Linked DNA regions of Homo sapiens. The protein of the gene in region 1 purifies or fractionates together with the protein of each later gene. This does not show direct contact. Each region holds a gene or a part of one and is shown on either strand. Other genes may lie near its edges.

Region 1 (3,602 bases):
GTGATCCTGGCCTCGAGGCGGAAGCCTTGTGACAATGGGTGTGTGCCTATCTGCTGTGGGGTGGGGGACACAACTGGACAGGGTGGTAGGGTGGCCGCTTCTCCCTCCCAGGGAAGGGCATCAGCCTGGAGCCAGAGCTCTGCTTCCCATTGGCTGTGGGGCCCCAGGCACCACTAGACTTTTCTGGGCTGCTGTGGCTTTACTATGGGTAAAATGAGGGATAGGGGCACACATTTCCCCTCTTGTCGCATTCCCTAGAGCAGGGCCACCCTTACCCAGGGTGGCTCAGGCTGCCTCGATGCAGGCCTTGGGCAGGATATTTCTCACGTGGCCACCTCCTTGGCCTCCTCCCTCTGACAGCCCTGTGTGGGCTGGAGGGCCTAAACATCTCTTTTGCTGGAGAGACAGGGACAGAAAAAAAATCCCAAAGCCCACGAGTCTTCCCCTGAGCGTTGAAGTGGAGTGGCTTTTCCAGAAAGTCCACAGTGAAGTCAGGTTGGCTCCTGGTGAATTCAGTGCTAACCCACAGGTACCTCCTCCCTCCAGCCTGGCCCTGAGCCCCGCATTGGGGCTTTAAGAGTCGATGTGCCTTGCATCCCCCTGGTGAGGAATCTGTGCTAGAGGGGGCAGGGTCTCGGCCTTGGTTGGGCAGAACAGGCCCCCACTTTCTTCTGTGGCTGACCCCTGTCCCCTTGCTACCCTTCCTTCACTCAGGGACCCCTATGTCATCGCGCTGAGGTCGGTCACGCTGCCCACACACCGAGAGACGCCAGAGTACAGACGCGGAGAGACCCTCTGCTCAGGCTTCTGCCTCTGGCGCGAGGGGGACCAGCTGACCAAGGTGAGGCCGGTCCCCCCAACCACGCCCCCAGCCTGGCTCCACCCCAACACCACACGTGTATTGAGCTCAGCACTGCTGGGCTAGGATAGTCTCAGAGCTGGCCCCCCAGCAGGCTCCCCCTTCCAGCCTGGGGGAGCCTGAGAGTGTCAGGGGCTGAAAATGATCTAATCTGTGTACAGGTAAGTCAGAGGCCACTGCATGGTCTTGGAAAAAGCTCTGGGTGCTGAAGGCAGAAGGCCTGGGTTCTGAACTGAAATTCCATCTCACTCGTCATTCACTTGGATAGCCCTTCTCATCTAGGAAGGCTTTATATGACTCTGAGGGCCCATAAAACCCAGCAGCGCAGTCCGTGTTGATGGAAAACATGGGGAGGAGGCTGAGGGAAAGCGAGGGTGGGGTACTGCAGCCTCCCCCCTCACAGCTTCTATTAGGGCCCTGCAGCCTGGGTCTGGCCTTGAGACTCACCCAGCAGAGACTCAGCCGGTGTTTGCTGAATTCATATGCTTGAACCCATGAGCGCCTCAGAACCATCCCTGGGCTAATGTCTAATGTGTCTCTATGGCCGAGATTCAGAGCTGGGCCCTGGAGATGCAGCCCCTGCCCTCCAGGGCCTCTGGCTGGCGGGGAAGATGCATGATGACAATGTGGTGTGTGGTGTGGGAAGCCAGGGTTGTCAGTGCCCGAGGAAGGGTTGGGGGAGATCAGCTGGAGGAGGTCATGCTGGGCAACTGTGTAATCTAAGACCCTGGGGAGTTGGGTTGAATATTCTGCCCTCCCAGAAGGCCAGCAAGGCTGACTCACCACCAGCCTCGTGCCCACTGGGCTCCCACCCCTTCCCAGGACCCTCCCCTAGCTTGGTCCCCCTGAGCTTGGCTTCCCACCCTGCAGGTATCCTACTACAACCAGGCCACCCCAGGTGTTCTCAACTATGTGACCACCAACGTGGCCGGCCTCTCCTCTGAGTTCTACACCACCTTCAAGGCTTGTGAGCAGTTTCTCTTGGACAACCGGAATGATCTGGCCCCCAGCCTCCAGACCCTCTAGATGCCCTCAGTGGCCACATCATGCCCACTCCCACTCCATCCTGTCCCCAAGGACTCACATACAGTGCCTGGAGAAAGCCAAAGACCTTTATTTCTTCCTGCCTCCCCGTGGGAAGCCTCCGCCCTGAGGTCCGCTGGCCCACCACCCCTGGGTGCTCAGTTTCTACCAACATGAGCCAGCAAGTCCTTGTGGTAGCCCTGGGGTAGCCTGTAGTAGACTCGGGTCCTGTCCACAGCCCTAGCTGCCAGCAATGCTGTCCTCACAGAGGCATAGTCGCCCCCAGCTGGGTTGTGCTCCACTGTGACGGTGGCCCGGGGGGAGGATGCCAGCAGCCTGCCTATGGCTCCAGCTGTGCTGTGGCCCAGCAGCATGGCCTGCATCTGGAAGGACACAGGTTGCCAGAGCCCCTGGCACAACTCTAGCATATCTGTGAGCAGCTGTTCCCTGTAGCCACTGCCCAGCACCTCCTCAGGCCAGCCTGGTGCCACAGTCACGTGGGGGAAGACCTCAGCCACAGCTGTAAGCAGCTCTCTGCCAGCCACATGGCCGGGGACCGAAAAACTCCCGTGGGAGATTTTGGCCCCAACCCACACAGGCCAATGCAAGAGGCCAAGGCTGGAGAGGCGTGCCAGCAAGGCCAGGGATGGCCGGAGGGCTGCGGGCTCCGCTATTTGCAAATGGATGCCCCAGTGTCCGGGATGTGTGGCCAGCTGCTGCAGGCAGGACTCCAGCGTCAGGATGTTGCCACTTGGAGTATGAACAATGGGCACGGGGTTTTCAGCCACAGTTCCCTCGAGGCCAGTGTTCAGCAGGATCATGCCTTCTGTGTCTGGAAGAGGCGGCAGAGGCAACAGTGTTTAGGATTTGGGTTATCATAAGGTGTTAAGAGTCCCTTGTTAAAGGGGCAGTGGGAGTTATGGGGTCATCAAGGACCTTGCCTCTCTGGAATCTGTCAACCCAGTTTTGGGCTCCAGGTGGATGGGTTGCTTTATAAATGTGCCTGGTGCATGAGAAACTCTTGTTTCAGCTCTTGGCCTTTACCCATGACTCAGCCTGGGGGCTGGTGCCGGCCTTGCCTGCAGCAATGTAGCTGAGGACTGGTCTGAAGGCCAGGAGCCCTGTGCTCTTGACATCACTGTACTCCCTCTCCCTCCCCGCAACCCTGCCCCACCTTGCATCCAGGGTATGGTGTAAATAAACCTGTGTTGCCATGGCAACAGAGACCGGCGGTACCTGCCCCAAGCAAAGGACACCCCTGCAGATGAGCTGGGAGCACCGGGGCTGAAGGGTAGACCTTACCTGGGAGGGTCATTGTTGCTGTTTTACCGCTGCCCTGGACGTCAGGAACCAGCCACTCCACATTCAGACCGTCATCCCCAGGCAGCTGGAGAAGAGGGATCAGGCTGCCTCCCGTGTAGTACATTGGTTTCCGTGTGGCATTCACTGTGGGGCCCCAAATCGCCAAGGTGAAGTGGCTGCCATTCACAGAACACCTTACCTGGTTGCTAGGGTCCCATAGGCCACAGCTCTACGGGCATCCTCTCTAAGCCTCATAGCACCCTGCCAAGTAGCTCTCATTTCCTTGCCTTGTAGACTAGAAGAAGTGACTTGCCCAAGGTCTTATAAGCAGTAAGCAAAGTTGCCAGGAGTGGAACCTGATGGGACCAGGTCTGCCTGGCTCCAGAGCTGGTATCCTTCCCGCTCGCTTAGGTGGCTC
Region 2 (8,332 bases), on another chromosome or scaffold:
ATTTTTAGTAGAGACGGGCTTTCACCATGTTGGCCAGGCTGGTCTCAAACTCTGAAATATTTTAAACTGTAAAATTCAGTGTTTCTTAGTATATTCATAACAATGTGTGACCATCTTTACTACCTAATTCCAGAACATTCTCATCACTTCCATAAGAAACTCTACCCCCTTTAGCTATCACCTGCCAACCCCCTACTTCCCCCAGCCCTAAGCAACCATTAACCTGCTTTCTGTCTCTATATATTTACCTATTTTGAATATTTCATATGAATAAAATCATGTATGCCTGTATAACACATGGTCTTTTGTGTCTGGCATCTCAGCATAGTGTTTCAAAAGTCCATCCATATTGTAGAATATATCTGTACTTTGGAAAAACTCTCAAACCATGCTTCTCCTCTGCTCTCACACCAACACAAAAACAGTCAAGACTTCTGGGACCCCAAAATATGTGGGGATTTCTCCTCATCAGCCAGCAGGCAAGCAATCAGTTCTGCAGCGGACACCAGCTGTGTGTTCTCCAACTCAATTTCAACACTATCTACCTAGACATAATGTCAGATCCTACAGGTTAAGGGTTCAGTCTCCAAGACTATCCCCACCTCAGATATCAGTTGCAAGTTTGGGTCTCCAGAACTTCTGACCAACAGGCTTTAAGTTGGGGTTTCCATGACCCCCTCTTTGGGTTCAATTGATTTGCTGGAGCGGCTCACAGAACCCAGTGTAACACATATTTTCTGGTTTATTACAAAAGATATTACAAAGGATACAGATGAAGAGATGCATAGGGCAAGGGATAGGGGAAAGGACACCCATCAGAGGGCCCTTGGCCCTCTGAAGGTTTACTGAAAAATCTACTCACAAGAAGGCAGATTAATAAAAGAAGAGGTATACAAATTTATTAAACCATGTACACAGGGAGAATCACAGAGTGATTGCCCAATATCCCAATGGGGTTCAGAAGCTTAACACCATCTTGAGGTTACAGAAAGAACACGGACTTGGATCCTGGCAAAACAGATTATGGTGGGGGGATATAAATTCTATTTAGGGGCAATAAATGGTTACTAGGGAGAATGATTGGATGGGGAACAGAAATTAATTCATTAATAGTTCTCTTTGGAACTTAAATGATCCTCAGGGACAGTCATGATCTTATAAAAGGGTCCGTTCAGGTACATTCTTGGTCTTCTTTCCTGTAATGGATAATGAGACAAGGAGGGGAGCAACTGTTCTCCTTGGAGGGTCCATACTATCTTTATGTAGATAGGGAAAAAGTCTCTTCCAACTTGATACCTAAGAGTTTTTAACTCAAAATCCTCATTATACCAGGGAGCCATATTTTGGGATAAAATTCCCTGCACTCCCTCTGACCTTTCATGAAGACTTCATTGGTTGCTCATGATTGAAGCATGGACAACCATGCTCATGATTGAGGCATGGACAACCATATCAAAAAGTGATTGGACAAAAAAATACATGCTCTAAACCCAGCAAGGTCTGTCTATTCAGATGCCTCTTGGCCTCTCTGTGCAGCATTCCTTCCTCCAGGATATGGGGTAGGGCCCTCTCTGGAATAGATGCCTTACGACCACAATCAGATTAGAGTCTTGCCAAGTAGGCAGGTGAAAGGAGGGCAAGAGAAGGTCAGAGAAAGAGATTCTGTTTACTGCAAAATGGGCTAGGAAAGTTATGAGCTAGGAACTGTGGATGAAAACCAATGTATCATATCACAGTATTCCATTCCTTTTTATGACCAAATAATATTCTACTCTATAGATATAACACACTTGTTTGTCTATTCATTAGCTGATGAACATTTGGGTTGTTTCTACTTTTTGACTAAATCAATAAGGCCGCTAGGCACATTTGTGTACAAGTTGTTGTTTTTGTTGTTTAGAGATGGGAACGCTCTCTGTTGCCCAGGCTGGAGTACAGTGGTGCAATCATAGTTCACTACAGACTCGAACTCCTGGGCCCAAGCAATCCTCCCATGTCAGCCTCTTCAGTGTCTGGTACCACAGATGAGTGCCACCACACCCAGCTACTTTCTAAATTTTTTGTAGAGACAGGTCTCCCTATGTTGTCCAGGCTGGTCTCAAACTCTTGGGCTCAAGCAATCTTCCCGCCTCTGCCTCCCAAATTGCTAGAATTACAGGCATGAGCCAGCATGCCCAGTTTGTGTACAAGTTTTTGTTTGAACACTTGTTTTCAGTCTTCTTGGGTATAAAGCTATTACAGATGTTCCTTGACTTACAATGGGATTATATCCCAATAAACCCACCATACGCAGAAAATAGTGTAAGTTAAAAATGCATTATAACCCATCAGCCCATTGTAAAGTCAAAAAATTGTAAGTCAAACCATCCTAAGTCAGAAAGCATCTGTAGTGGAATTGGTGAGTAATGTGTTCTATGTTTAATTTTTTGACGAAAGGCTAAATTGTTTTCCAATGGACGTGTATTAGTCCATTTTCACACTGCTGATAGAGACATACCCAAGACTGGGCAATTTGCAAAAGAAAGAGGTTTAATGGATTTACAGTTCCATGTGGCTACGGAGGCCTCACAATCATGGTGGAAGGTGAAAGGCACTTCTTACATGGCGGCAGCAAGAAAGAGAATGGGAGAAGCGGAAGTGGAAACCTCTTATCAAACCATCAGATCTTGTGAGACTTATTCACTACCACAAGAACAGTATGCAGGGAATCACCCCCATGATTCAATCATCTCCCACTGGGTCCCTCCCACAATATATGGGAATTATGGGAGTATACTTCAAGATGAAATTTAGGTGGAGTCACAGAGCTAAAACATACCAGGGCATATATCATTTTGTATTTTCATCAGCAATGTATAAGTGCTCCATTGCCCCACATACTCATTAGAACTTGGAACTGTTGATTTTTTGTTTTTTACTTTTAGTCATTTTGATGAGTATCCCATTGTGATTAATTTGCAATTCCCTAATGACTAATGATGTTCAGCATCTTTTCATGTGCTTATTGGCCATTTGTCCATCTTTTGGAGAAATATCTATTCAAGCCCTTTACATATTTTTCATTTTATTTTTGAGACAAGGTCTCACTCTGTCACCTGGGCTGAAGTGCAGTGATGTGATCATAACTCATTACAGCCTCAACCTCCCCAGCTCAAGCTATTCTCCTGTCTCAGCCTCCCGAGTAGCTGGGACTACAGGTGAGTGTCACCATGCCTAGCTAATTTTTGTCATTTTTTTGTAGCGACAGAGTTTTGCCATGTTGCCAGAGCTAGTCTCAAACTCTGAGCTCAAGCGAGCCACTCACCTCAGCCTCCCAAAGCGCTGGGACTACAGGCATGAACCACCACTCCCAGCCCCTTTGCACATTTATAAATTGTGTTCTTTTTGGTTTTGTTTTGTTTTAAATTCGGTTTATCTTTTTGTTGTTGGGTTCCTTTCACAATAAGTTAACTTTTGTCAACTGAAAAATAAAAATAAAATTCTATGCCCCCCAACTGACTGAACAGGCCCTCTCTTGGCCAAGGAGACCCTAGAAAAAACTTGGAAGCTGAGTTCCTACTCATGACAGGATGGGAAGTCGGACACACCTCTTTATAACCCCTCCCTCTATAATCGCCATTAGATTTTCTTTCCTAAGGGTTAAACAGAAACCAGCCCTTTTGAAAGACTCACTCCACCAGCCTGATGCTGACCCTCCCATTTGCAGTTTCAATAGAACAACCGACTAGCATTCCTTCCTGATAAGAGATCACCCACCATCCAGGGAGTGGTTCTGGCCAGTCGACAGAGGACGTGCAGTGAGGGTTTTCACATCCCCTGCTTCACCTTTTGAAGTCAAGCGGTAGAAAACTCTACCCTTGGATCATGCTAAGGCCACCATTTTTTAAACATGGGATCCACAGAGAGGCATGAAGCTCAACTGCACATGCACAAATTGCTCCTTTCATAAATATTCGTGACCCCTCTTACAGTTTATTTAACATGTATATTTGGCCACTGTGTTTAGCATAAATCCCTGTCTTATTCTTCCAACCCTGGAAGTGCCTGTTTTTGGCTTCTGACTGGAAGCTAGGCTTCCCAGTCTGTCAAAATGGCTACCATGCAGGTTCAACTCTTTTTTTTTTTTTTTTTTTTTTTTTTTGAGATGATGTCTTGCTCCCAGACTGGAGTGCAGTGGCACAATCTTGGCTCTCTGCAACCTCTGCCTCCTGGGTAAGCAACTCTTCTGCTTCATCTTCCCAAGTAGCTAGGACTACAGGTGCAGGCCACCACATCCAGCTAACTTTTGTATTTTTAGTAGAGATGGAGTTTCACCATGTTGGCCAGCCTGGCCTCAAACTCCTGACCTCAAGTGATCCACCCGCCTCAGCCTCCCAAAGTGCTGGGATTACAGGCATGAGCCACTGTGCCCGGCCAGGTTCAACCCTTTATGAGAAATAAAGTTCATCTGATTGGGCACAGTGGCTCATGCCTGTAATCCCAGCACTTTAGGAGGGCTAGACAGAAGAATCACTTGAACCCAGATGTTCGAGACCAGCTTAGGCAACATAGTGAGCCCCACTATTTCTATTTTTTTTAAACTAAAGAAAAATATGAAGTAAACAGTGCTAAAATAGTGATGGCAATACAGAAATCAGGAACTAGTGGCATGACATTTTGAGAAAGATATTTAAATAAGCTGGAGAGACTCGGTGTCTCCAGCTTTAAAACAGAAATCAGTCTCTGCCACTTCATAGGTGCTAGAACAAAAGAGACTTGTTCCAAATGAGATGACGCATGTGAAGCGCTTACCCAGTGCTCGGCAAGGGGAAGCACTCTCTAAACGTTAGCAAATACCATGGTAGGACACAAGGCCCCTGACTCTCCGCTTTCAGCTTACTGAAGATCCTCAAAACCAACAGCACACAGCTTCCAGCGCATGCTCCTTTCCCCAAGACCTTGTGGGGGAACCCGCCGCCAGCGCGGAGCCACCGTGACTCGTAGCCTGACTTCCGTTTCCGGGGGCGGCTTCCGGCGGCGTGACCTGACCGCAAGAGGCCAATGGAGTGTGGGAGCTGAAAGGGTCTTCGCTGGCGGCCGGTAACTGGCGGCGGTTGGGAACGGCCGAGTGTGGCTCTTCTGGTGTTTCAGCTTGGGGAGAGAGGGGTGGCCTTCCTCTTGCAGTTGAGGCCGGCGCCGAGCCGGACTTCAGGCGGATCTCGTGGCGGAGCCCATCTTGCTCCCTCTCCCAGGCCTTTACCCGCTCCCTAGGATTCCCGGGCCCTGTAGGTGGGAGTTGGGAGACGTGAGTTCTCTTTCATTCTGCGCCTCTCATTGGCTCTCTGACCTTGTGCGGAACGCGTCCTTTAGCTGACCTCAGCTGCATTTTTTAGAAGATGGAGATTGTATTCACAGTGACTGTCAGCTTTTTAACGGCGGGAACTGACGTAGTGTTAAACACTGTCGTGTATCGCTGGCACAGCACAAGGACATTATAGGTATTCTGTACTCAATTAAGTTATTTTGAGTCACAGACCTTTTGAAAATCTCGTGTAAGCTATGGCCCCTCCACCTCTCTAATACTTCCCCCGGCCCCCACCCCAAGCACACACAAAAGCTTATGCATAGGAAATTTGTTTTACTATTTCGGATTACTTCCAAGATCTCTCTCCTGATGCCCATCTATGGATCCCAGAGTCTGGCAAGTAGTAGGCGTTTGAACATTTGTAATCATTAGATAGTAAGTATTCAGTTAACCATTTTTATTTTTAATTTTTTCTTTTTTTTTTTTTTTTTTTTTGAGACAGGGCCTCACTGTGTCACCCAGGCTGGAGTGCAGTCCTCCCACCTCAGCCTCCCAAGTAGCTGGACTCCAGGCGCCCACCACCACGCCCAGCTATTTTTTGTGTTTTTGGTAGAGATGAGATTTTGCCATCTTACGCAGATTGGTCTCGAACTCTTGGCCTCAAGCAATCTACTCACCTCAGCTCCCTAAAGTGCTGGGATTACAGGCATGAGCCAGTGTGCCCAGCCCAGTTAATCATTTTTAAATGCATGAAATGCTATTTCACAGGAGGGAAGAAGATAGATAGCCTATTAATAAGTTTTAATTATTGGCCTAACCAGGTACTACTCTCACTTGTCTCCTAACGACTCTAGGAAAGAGGTATTACTAATTACTTAATTACATTTGAAGGTTTGGGAGAATTAATTTGCCATAAGTCATTCAACCTATGATGGTGGAGGCAAGAATTCAAACCTGTATCTATCTGAAACTCCAAAAGCCCCATATTATTATTATTATTATTATTTATTTTATTTATTTATTTATTTTTTTGAGACAGAGTCTTGTTCTGTTACCCCAGCCGGAGTGCAGTGGCATGATCTCAGCTCACTGCAATCTCCACCTCCCGGATTCAAGCAATTCTCCTCCCTCAGCCTCCCAAGTAGCTGGGATTACAGGCTCCCACCACCACACCTGGCTAATGTTTGTATTTTTAGTAGAGACGGGGTTTCACCATGTGGGCCAGGCTGGTCTTGAACTCCTGACCTCAGGCAATCTGCCCGCCTCGGCCTCCCAAAGTGCTGGGATTACAGGTGTGAGCCACCACGCCCAGCCAAGCCCTATATTCTTAACTAACCATGTTCTTAACATCTAGATGCAGAAATGGATTTGAATGTGATCTGCAGTTTCTGTCGTAGTTATGAAATGGCTTTTGTCAACATGGGTTACCCCAAAGCAAACATTGCATGCTATGGAAATACTTCTTGTCTCTTTTTCTCCCATGGTATCTGTATTGCTTCTTTAATAATAACATCATGTTTTACAGCCTGCACTCTGTGCCCATGTTTATTCAACCCTTTTTACTTTGGTGACTGTTTATCAGATGTGTTGCCTTGTTCTTCCTGCCCTCCAGAGCCCATGTTTTTAATTATAACTGAAATATGAGATGATAATATTTGGGCTTTATTTCTTTTTCTTTTAAAGGACAGTACTGCTTTTAAAGAGACAGTGTTAGGGATCTTGGAAGCACAGCCAACATGTGTGACATTGAAGAAGCCACTAACCAACTCCTAGATGTGAACCTTCATGAGAACCAGAAGTCTGTACAAGTGACAGAAAGTGACCTCGGAAGTGAATCTGAGCTTCTAGTCACTATTGGAGCCACTGTACCTACTGGCTTTGAGCAAACAGCTGCAGATGAAGTCAGAGAGAAACTTGGGTCATCATGCAAAATCAGCAGAGACCGTGGCAAGATATATTTTGTCATTTCAGTGGAAAGTCTGGCACAGGTTTGAATGGAGCAATATTTAAAATAGTTTTCTAAGTTGATCATTTTATGGTTACTTTTCATTTTATAGACCCTTCTGGAATCCTTTCTGATTTTCATTGCTCTGCCCCAAATCAGGTGATTTTAAAGTTACTGCATTTTCTATTGAGTACTGATTTGTAATTTTGACTGTAGTTTCAGTATCCCTTAGGACCAAAAGTGTTTCAGATTTTTGGAGGGGGGTGGGGGGAGTTTTGGAATATTTGCATTATACTTGCCAGTTGAGCATTTCTTTTTTTTTTCTTTTTCTTTGAGACAGAGTCTTGCTCTGTCATCAGGCTGGAGTGCAATGGCGCGATCTTGGCTCACTGCAACCTCCGCCTCCCAGGTTCAAGCAATTCTCCTGCCTCAGCCTCCCCAGTAGCTGGGACTACAGGCGCCCGCCACCGCATCTGGCTAATTTTTGTATATTTAGTAGAAACGGGGTTTCACCATCCTGGCCAGGCTGGTCTCGAACTCCTAACCCCGTGATCCACCCGCCTCGACCTCCCAAAGTGCTGGGATTACAGGCCTGAGCCACTGCGCTCGGCCTGCCAGTTGAGCATTTCTAATCTGAAAATCCGAAATGCTGCACTGAGCATTTCCTTTCAGCATTGTGTTGGGGCTCAAAAAGTTTCAGATTTTTAGATGTGGGCTGCTCAACCTGTAGTAGGATTGCTACATTTTTAGAGGTGATCTAGTATTTCTTGAGGATTGAATTCACCAGAAAGAATACTGTTCAACTTAAGAAATTCTCTAAGTATCTCAGTATTTATTTACTTCAGCATATAGCAGATGTTTAACCTTTGGTGATGAAACATAAAAGAGATTTTCCTTTTAATTTGCATCAAAAATTCTTGCTCAGAAGTAATTAGGACTCACTCAAGGTAAAAAGTGAAGGTCAGAAAACTGCAATCTCACTATCATAAAGCTGATATATCTCATTACCACATAAGCAGTGAGAGGGCAAGGATTGTTGTCTATTTTTTTTTCCACCAATATATCCCACGCTCTTAGTGTCTGGCATATAGTAGGTACCCAGA

Evidence for each region.
Region 2: the proteins of ACOT11 (region 1) and THUMPD3 purify together in Homo sapiens (affinity purification with mass spectrometry; 3 studies listed by BioGRID and IntAct, with this or other methods). This does not show direct contact.

What each region holds. Positions count from the first base shown.
Region 1 is NC_000001.11:54,607,228-54,610,829, forward strand, and holds the end of ACOT11 (acyl-coenzyme A thioesterase 11), read left to right. Parts: coding exon 1-38; intron 39-714; coding exon 715-841; intron 842-1,729; coding exon 1,730-1,885; 3' UTR 1,886-2,040; coding exon of another isoform or gene 2,041-2,714; 3' UTR 2,715-3,102; downstream 3,103-3,602. Other genes in the region: protein FAM151A, read right to left, coding at 2,041-2,714, 3,185-3,328. UniProt on the Homo sapiens protein: Has an acyl-CoA thioesterase activity with a preference for the long chain fatty acyl-CoA thioesters hexadecanoyl-CoA/palmitoyl-CoA and tetradecanoyl-CoA/myristoyl-CoA which are the main substrates in the mitochondrial beta-oxidation pathway.
Region 2 is NC_000003.12:9,358,049-9,366,380, forward strand, and holds the start of THUMPD3 (tRNA (guanine(6)-N(2))-methyltransferase THUMP3), read left to right. Parts: upstream 1-5,005; 5' UTR 5,006-5,079; exon of another isoform or gene 5,080-6,145; intron 6,146-6,967; 5' UTR 6,968-7,020; coding exon 7,021-7,272; intron 7,273-8,332. UniProt on the Homo sapiens protein: Catalytic subunit of the THUMPD3-TRM112 methyltransferase complex, that specifically mediates the S-adenosyl-L-methionine-dependent N(2)-methylation of guanosine nucleotide at position 6 (m2G6) in tRNAs.